Regions from separate parts of the Homo sapiens genome. Here region 2 is linked to region 1. The links come from fine-mapping of genetic effects on gene expression. A gene starts in region 1. The other region holds a variant in brackets. All regions are shown on one strand. Distances are between the middles of the regions. Region 1 holds the start of SYT7 (synaptotagmin 7). Region 2 holds the start of LOC105369329 (a long non-coding RNA gene).

The links. PIP is the estimated chance that this variant, and not a neighbour inherited with it, causes the effect. A credible set is the group of variants that fine-mapping cannot tell apart.
Region 2: its variant is the best candidate, but not a certain one, in a credible set for the expression of SYT7 in cerebellum (GTEx, PIP 0.53).

The regions. Positions count from the first base shown.
Region 1 is chr11:61,578,469-61,582,714 of GRCh38, reverse strand. SYT7 (synaptotagmin 7) reads left to right here and starts at 1,639. Exons shown (of 13, transcript NM_001365809.2): 1 at 1,639-1,925. The coding sequence starts at 1,895. It overlaps LOC105369331 (a long non-coding RNA gene), which reads left to right. Exons shown (of 5, transcript XR_950166.3): 4 at 70-119; 5 at 722-1,309. RefSeq lists silencers at 1,189-1,348, 1,359-1,508, 1,529-1,618.
Region 2 is chr11:61,494,277-61,498,522 of GRCh38, reverse strand. LOC105369329 (a long non-coding RNA gene) reads right to left here and starts at 1,931. Exons shown (of 3, transcript NR_188527.1): 1 at 1,844-1,931. RefSeq lists an enhancer at 3,560-4,158. The variant T/C (reference allele first, on the strand shown) is at 2,322.

The DNA of each region.
Region 1 (4,246 bases):
GAGATTTCTGGCCACTGAGGAATTGTGGCCTTAACCTACGATGCCTTTTTTCCTTCCATTTTTATGTAGAACATTCATTCCCAGGAAATCTGCTCTCCACTGGAACAGTCTTCATGGAGGTTTGCTGGGGGAACTTCCTTATCTTTTTCTCAACCGGAAAAGCTGTAGGTGGAGGTGAATGTGTATGTGTGTATGTGTGTGTGTGGTGGTTGTTGGGGATAGCCTCCATGTGATTTCAAGGGGATGGGGTCTGTTTGTGTGTGTGTCGGGGAGACTTGAGATAGAGGGTTGTTCCTGGCTGCCTTCCACACTGTGGGCAGGTGGAGGTGTGGCTGGGCATGAGTAGTGCAGTATAAAGCCAGCAAAAGTGGATTTCTCAGGGTGGAAATAATAATCCTTGACTCTAGGAAGCCTGGCTCACCTGCAAACTGCATTCTCAGCACAGGGGAGGGCAGGATGCTGCCACAGACCCAGGGATTTTGCCCTCTTACCTGACCCATCAGTGAAGGGTAGGGGCAGCACCTGTATTGTGGGGAGCGTCAGTGTATGTGTCTCTTTGTGTGGGCAGCATGTCTGTGTGGGTGTGTGTGTGGGGGGCATCATGTCTGTGTGTGTGTGTGTGTGTGTGTATGTAGGTGATTACGTGTGTAGGTGTGTGCAGGGAGGTCTCTGTGCCTACCATACCACTAATGGTTCATTTCTGGGTTTTTCTTATCCTTAGGAGACAGGTCTCTTCTCCTCCCTGCCCCAGAATCAAATCATCCAAATTCTGTAGAGAAATGAGTGTTCACCTGATTTAGACTGTGCTGAGCCGGCAGAGAGGCAGAGGGGACCAAGAGAGGTCCAGGGTTGGAAGGAGAAGGAGGGATTTCCTTCCTACCCTCCGAAGTGCTAGGGTCAAGGAATAGAGGGGAGGATCAGAGGAGGAGCTGCTGCTATAGAGGGATAGCCAGAGGCTGAAAAGTCTATTTTCTTCTTTCGTGGGGCTGGGTTAGGTGAGGAGGGTCACTAGGCCAAACCTCCTACCGAGGGCAGGGATCTTAGCCCTTTCGGCTCCACCTGTGTGCGAGCTTGCAGAAAGACCGGACTGGCGGACCCAGGCTCAGCGCTGCCAAAAATTCCACTCCTGGTTTTTGCACACACCAGTCCGTCTGCCCCGGACCGCCGCGGTGTTGAGTCCGGAGCTGACGCCCTCGAGCCGCCAGCAAGCGGAAAACCCGGAGTGGATCTCCACGCCTTTTGGATCGGAGCCAAAGGGCACCTCGGAGGAGGTGGCCGGCTCTGCGGCCCTGCCCGGTGCCAGGCCGCGGCCATCGGGGGAGCACGGGCTGGGGGTGGGTCGCGCAGCGGAGCCGGATCCCCTGGCCGGACGAGCCCGGCCGTGGGGCTCGGCGGCCCTCCCCGCGGGGACTGCGAGGCGGGCGGGGCGCGGGGCGGCGGCCGTGCCCTCGGGGCGGCTTCGGGCGGCGGCGGGCGCGGGTGCAGTGCGGCGCGCGGCCGGCAGCGGGCGCAGGCGGTGGCTGTGGCCGCGGCGTTCGGCGGCTGGCGGGCGGCGCCGGCGGTGCCCCGGGCGCGCTCACACACGCGCTCACACACACACATACACACGGCCTCGTACACACACACACGCTCCGGCGCGCACACGCGGCGCGCAGGCCGGAGGGAGGCGGCTCGGCGCTGTTCGGCGGCGGCGGCAGCGTGCTCCGCGGGCGGGCGGGAGGGCTGGCGGGCGGCCCCCGCTCCCCGGCTCCGCGGCTAGGTGCAGCCCGCTCGGCCCCCGCCCTCGGACCCGCCCCCGGGGGTCGCCCGGCCCCATGCCCAGCGGCGGCGGCGGAGCAGCGCGCGGCCGCGGGCGGCTCTGAGGAGCCCGGAGGGAACCGGCGACGAGGGGACCATGTACCGGGACCCGGAGGCGGCCAGCCCAGGTAAGCGCGGCCCCGGCGGGCTGGGGCGCCCCGCACCGGCGGGCAGGACAGCGGCAGCGCCGGACGCCGTCTCGGAGCCCCAGCCTGGGGCTGTTGTCCGCCCGGAGCCGCACGGGCTCCCCCAGGGGTCATCCCAGCCCCGGGGGCGCGGGATCGAGCGGCAGCGGCTCGGACCCCGGTCCCCCGCAGTCTGGACACTGCCAGGCTGGATGTCTGGGACCGGCTTCGCAGTGTCCCCACAAGGACCTCTCCCCCACCCCTCAACAGCCCAAGGACAACGTGTGTGGCGGAGCGAGGAGCCGCTGCCCCTGTGGGAGCCGGGCAGTGCCCTCAGAGGCACCCGAGGCTCCCCAGCACCGGTGCCCCGGGGGTGCCAGCGCTGGCGGACCCCAGGGCGAGGATCCCGGCAGCTCTTGGCCAAGGTTGCGGGCACAGGGGAGCGGAGTGGCATCGCAGTGCCAACTGTGAATTGAGAGGGTGCCAGGGGGCAAGTGGGAATCTGGTGCGGCAGCTGGGCAGGGAGGTTCTGGGGGGTGGGGAACTGCAGGGGCGTTGATGGGTGAGACGGGGGTGCCTGAAGGGAAAGAGAGCAGGGGCTCATGAGAATGGGGGTGCCAAGAGAATGTTCTCCTAGGTTTGGGGAGGGGGAAGCAAACAACCCCAAACTCTCTCCCGTCCTGGGGTGGGGGAGGGCCGAACTCCTTTGCCTTCTGCTTCGCCCGCCAGGGGAGTGGCCTGGGAGCCCACTGTCTGCTTGGTATCCTCTAAGCCAAAGCCGAAGAATCTTCCCGTCTTCCTCGGAAATTGCTCTGCCATTTCCTCCTTGGCTCCTGATGCCTCCTCACCCAGTGCCCACCTGTAGGCAGGTCCCCTGCAGCTCCTGCCCAGGCTCCATCCCCGCTCCCACCTGGGGTGCTCCACCCAGTCCCAGCACCCCCAGTCTGCCAGTTCTGGCATCAGGGTCTGTTTCTGGGCTTCTCTCTGATGCTAAAAGCACGACTCCCCAGCCCAGGATGTGCTCCCAAACGAAGAGCCTCCAGGCTCCCTCCTGCCAGCCTCCTGGGGGCGGCGGTGCTGTAGGGAAGGAAGGGCTCTAAGACCCTGCACAGAAGGAGCCTGCAGCCCTGAGGCTCCTGAAGGCAGTCCAGTGGGTGCTGGCTTTGCCCACTGTTGCCCTAGCCCCACATTTGCTCTTTCCCCTCTAGGGGCAGCCTCAGCCTGTCCCTGCCTCCTGAGGAATCGGCTCCCACCCCCCATCGATTCTTTTCAGTCCAGTCGATATTGAGGACGACCCACTGGGCGCCAGGCACTGCCCTCACTCAGCACTTGGATATGAGGGTGAGAGATTCAGTCTCCTTCTCTGGAACCTTGCGCCCTTCTCTGAATGTCCTCTAGGTGAGGGCTGAAGGGGCATTGCCTGTGGAGAGCCCTCCCCTCATCTGTCTGGACCTAGGTCACCTACCCTGGCATCTTCGTCGAAGAGGCCGCCGGCTTCCAGCCCATGGCCCGTGGCAGGAGTATTCTCTTGCTCTGCTCACCTTCTTAGAAGCCAGTAGCTTAGTTCAGAAGCCAGCTCTGGGGTATGAGGATGGAAGGTAGGGAAGAAATAAGGACACTATCCATCCCCTCGCCCACCAGGCTGGCAGCCTCCCCTCTGGCCTGTTAGGCCACTGGCCTGGGGCTGTGCCCTCTCCCCTCTCCCTCCCTCCTCTTTCCTCCCATGCCTGGGCACCATGACATCACCACTCCTCCAAGCACCTCTGCCCTCACCACGGAGGCCAGCTTGACGTGCTTGGCATCTTCTAGGCAAAGGGTCTGGAGTCCAGTACCATCCCTGGTGTGCTGGCAGCCCTCAACTCTTCCCTCACCCCCTCCTTGAATGGGCCTCTCTGGCTGCAGTTGGGACCTGTCTTGCCCACCCCAGTTGCAGCTGCGGGACCCACCAGTGCCTGTGGTAGGGCAGCTGTGACTGGGAAAGGGGCTGGCCTGAGGCTGACTCCTCTCCGGTGTGGGCATTGGGCTGGGTGGGGTCAGACATAGGCTGGAGAGGGCACAGTCTGCCTTTGAGCCTAGTCATCTGGGGTCCTTGAGGAGTCAAAGATCTCATTCTGGCCTCTGCCCTCTGGCATCCCTGCCCACCTTTGTAGGCTCTATAGTTCCAGGTCAGATTTCCCTTCCCCCCAGCTCCCCCAAGGCTCCCTAGACTCAGCTCCCCAAGCCAGGGCTCTGTGTCCCCCATTTCTGCCTCCCCATCTCCCCTTGGCTGGTACTGGTTGGTACTGAGATATGCAAATTGATTTATGTGTAACTCAGGCCACCCC
Region 2 (4,246 bases), 84 kb after region 1:
TGTATTTTTAGTAGAGACGGGGTTTCTCCATGTTGGTCAGGCTGGCTCGGAGTCCTGATCTCAGGTGATCCGCCGGCCTCGGCCTTCCAAAGTGCTGGGAGTACAGGCGTGAGCCACCACGACCGGCCGGGCTCTAAGTTTTATTCTCAGGTCCACCTGAAGATTCTGTGAGTGACCAAGTCCTTTTAAGAAATTCCTTTTCTGCTTAAATTAGCCAGCTGTGGTTTTTGTTGCTTGTGATGAACTCTGACTGACAGCCTCCATCGTCAGACCTCATCAGCCTGTGACCACTCAGGGAGTCGCGTGATCATTCTCCCTCTGCCCCTGCTTGCACTGTCCTCCCAGAAGCCCCACACTGTCAAATGCTGTTCTGTGCTCAGGAGAAGCTTTGCCCATGTTCTTCAATGCCAGCCCACCGCCCCCAGTGCCAGAGCCCACCAGGAGAGCATGGCTCTGCGCCAAGGCCGTCTGACCGTAGGGACCACAACCTTGTCATCAGGCTCCATAGGAGGCTGCTTGGCCCAGGGGCTCATATAGCCTTTTCTGAGCACAGCGCCTTCAGCATCTCACCCAAGCTTAGGCCAGGTGAGCGACACACACACCTTCCTGCCCTGGCCCTTTAACTGGGGACTCTAAAGACACACACACACAGGCTCTCCAACCTGAATCACACTCTCACACTCATACACTCACACCCACACACATACACTCACACATATATACACTCACACACACTCATATTCACACTCATACACACTCATACACTCACTCTAACACACACACATTTACACCCAGATATACTCACACACATCTACACACACACATACACACATACACTCATACCCACACGCTCTAACACACACCCACACATCTACACACACACTCACATACACACACTAACACACTCATATACCCACACACGCAGACACACATACACAAATACACACAATCATCTTCACACACATACACACACTCATACACTCCCACTCCCACACACATACACTCACACTCACACTCACCTATATACACTCACACTCATATTCACACACATTCATATACGCACACTCTAACACACTCACACCCACACACACACATACACTCACACATATATACACACATATACTGTCTCATATTCACACTCATACACACTTATATACTCACACTAACGTATACTCACACCCACAAACACATTCACAAAATACACACGCATACACTCTCACACACTCATAATCACACACTCATACACTCATATCCCACACACTTAACACATACCCACACATATACACTTACACACATAGACACACGCATACCCACACTCATATACCCACACACACCCACACACACAGATACATACACACAAATACACACAAATCATCTTCGCACACATACATTTTCACATATACTCACACTCCAACACACACCCACACATACACATACACATACACATATACACTTACACACCGCACTTACATATACACTCATACATACAACTCTCACACTCACATTCACACACATATACTCACACTCTCAGGCACATACACTCACAGTTCCAAATTCACACTCATGCACTTACACTAATGCTCTCACACACACAGTCACATTCACACACTCTAGCACTCAAACACACACACACACTCTCACACAAGTGCACTCACCTCTTTAGCAAAAGAAATCACAGCCCATCCCTATCACTGCCTGGCTCTCCCAGGAAGTTCCCAGGCCCCATTCCTGCTCATCCGAGACCCCCAGGGAAGCGATGGGGTGGGGAGAGGCTTGGATTCAGAAGAGAGTGCGAGCGCGCTCACGGGGCCGGCACCGCATGGCTTTGGGCAGGTCGCCTCACCTCTGGTCAGGTTGACCTGCCCATCACAAAGGTCCTGGGCAGAGCCTGTCTGCAGCAGTGTGGGGAGGAAGCGAGGCATGGCGGGATGTCCCACAGGCCCTGCCAGACCCCTCTGATCTTCAACGGGGGCCCTCAGTGGGACCTGCTGGGTCTGATTCATCCTCTGCCCTTGCATACTTGCTTGTTCGGGGAACAGTTCCTCAGGAATGGGTGGCCCTCCAGATGGTCAGAGAGGAGACTGGGGAACCGATTCAGAGCCTCACACACTCCATCTGTCTGGGTGTATCATATCCCCCGTCCTCAGCCTCCCCACGCAGGGCCTCCCACCACCCCCAGGCCTCCAGTTCCCAAAGACAGATGCCTCTAACCGCCCCCACCCCCAGGAGCCCTGTGTTCCCAGCTGGACAGCTGTCAAGCCAACGAGCCGGTGGTGCTGCCTGCTACCACGTGACTCAGGCCAGATGGCACCTGTCAACAT[T/C]AGCCGCCACCAGGCCATGACGAACAAACAGCAACCTCACACGCGTCCACACGCGTCACAAGCCGTGTCTGATCTCACGGCGCCCAGCAGCCACCCCACCTGCTGTCCCGTCAGCCCTCTAGGCTCCACACCCCCACACCAAAGCCGTCAGCGCCGCACCCACCTGTGTCCCTAAACTTCCCCCAGAGGGAGGCCCCTCTGTGTTCTTGCTGGAAAGGTGAAGGCCCACGGATATTCTCAGCACCCGCAGGCTGTGGGGGCTTAATAAAGGTTAATCATCATCCCTGTACACCTCAGCAAGTTTTTAAAAATATTCGTTGAGGAGGGGGCAGGAAACTTCTGGCAGCAACTGCAATGTCACCTGCCAGAAGGACTGACTCTGTGAACACCCAAAGCCTGGTTACCAGGTGAAGGGAGAAGCAGGCAGCTGCCAGGAGGGCCTGGCAGAAGCTGGACTTAGGGACGGGGGCTTAAGTGGGAGTAAACCACTGGAAGGGCAGCCAAGGCCTTCCAGGTCAGGCTGTGCAGGTGATCACCCACCCTTGATAGAGAGGAGGGCTGCTCTCAGGGAAGGGTTTTGTTTTGTTTTGTTGAGACAGGGTCTCAGTATGTCACCCAGGCTAGAGTACAGTGGTGTGAACATGTCTCACTACAGCCTCAACTTCCTGGCCTCAAGCTCTCTTCCCACTTCAGCCTCCCGAGTAGCTGGGACTACCGGCATGTGCCAACATGCTCAGCTAATTCTTTAATTTTGTGTAAAGATGGTCTCACTTTGTTTCCCAGGCTGGTCTTGAACTCCTGAGCTCAAGTGATCCTCCAGCCTCAGCCTCCCAAAGTGCTGGGATTATAGGCGTAAGCCACCTCGCTCGGCTTCAGGCAAGGGTCTTGAGGGGGCCCACCCAGGGCCAAGCAGGAGACAGAGACCAGACCCTGTGACAATCTGCAGCATGGGCTTTTTTGGGGGGGTGCTGAGGCGGAGGGCGTGGTGGAGTTTCACTCTGTCGCCCAGGCTGGAGTGCAGTAGCGCGATCTTGGCTCGCTGCAACCTCTGCCTCCCGGGTGCAAGCAATTCTCTGCCTCAGCCTCCTGAGTAGCTGGGACTACAGGTGCCCACCACCACGCCCGGCTAATTTTTGTATTTTTAGTAAAGACAGGGTTTCACCATGTTGACCAGGCTGGTCTTGAACTCCTGACCTCGTGATCCACCCACCTCGGCCTCCCAAAGTGCTGAGATTACAGGCATGAGCCACCGCGCCCGGCCTGCAGTGTGGCCTTGACCAAGTCTCCACCTCTGTCTTGGCCTCCGTTTCCTCTGCTCCAGCATCAGGGCAGCTTCTATTTGTGTGCACTCTGTGCATGTTGGATTTTATCCAGAAGGCAGCTGCTGCTATTAGCTGAAGCTCAGTGTGGTTAAGTGACAACTGGAGGTCACAGAAGGGTTAAGTGACCGACTGATGGCAGGGAGCTGCCTTGGGTTGTGGAGAGCTGGAATCTGAACCCAGGCAGTCGGATTCCAGGGCTCAGGCCTGTGACAGGTACACTCTGCCGACTGCCTGGGCCTGGAGGGGAAAGAGCTCTGGGGCTGATGCTCTCTGGAAGCAAGGGGATGAGGCCACTGAAAATGAAGCCATGGGGTCAGCGCCCCTGGCCTGCTGCTCCTCTGGGCCATCCCCTAGGGGCTAACTGCCTCACATGTCTTCTAAACTCTCATGCTGAGAGACCGGAACTCTCCCACTGTCCCCTGACATCACAGAGCAGAAGAGGGAAGCCACACAGCAAGATGTCCTTTCAATAGGGACTGGCATCCTGAGGAGCCACCAGATAGAAAGTGTCCCCTCTTCCTGTCCTGGGGACACGGAGAATTTCCCAGCACTGACTCTACCCTGGTCTTGGCGCCTACCAGGGGCCAAGGCTGGAATGTAGAG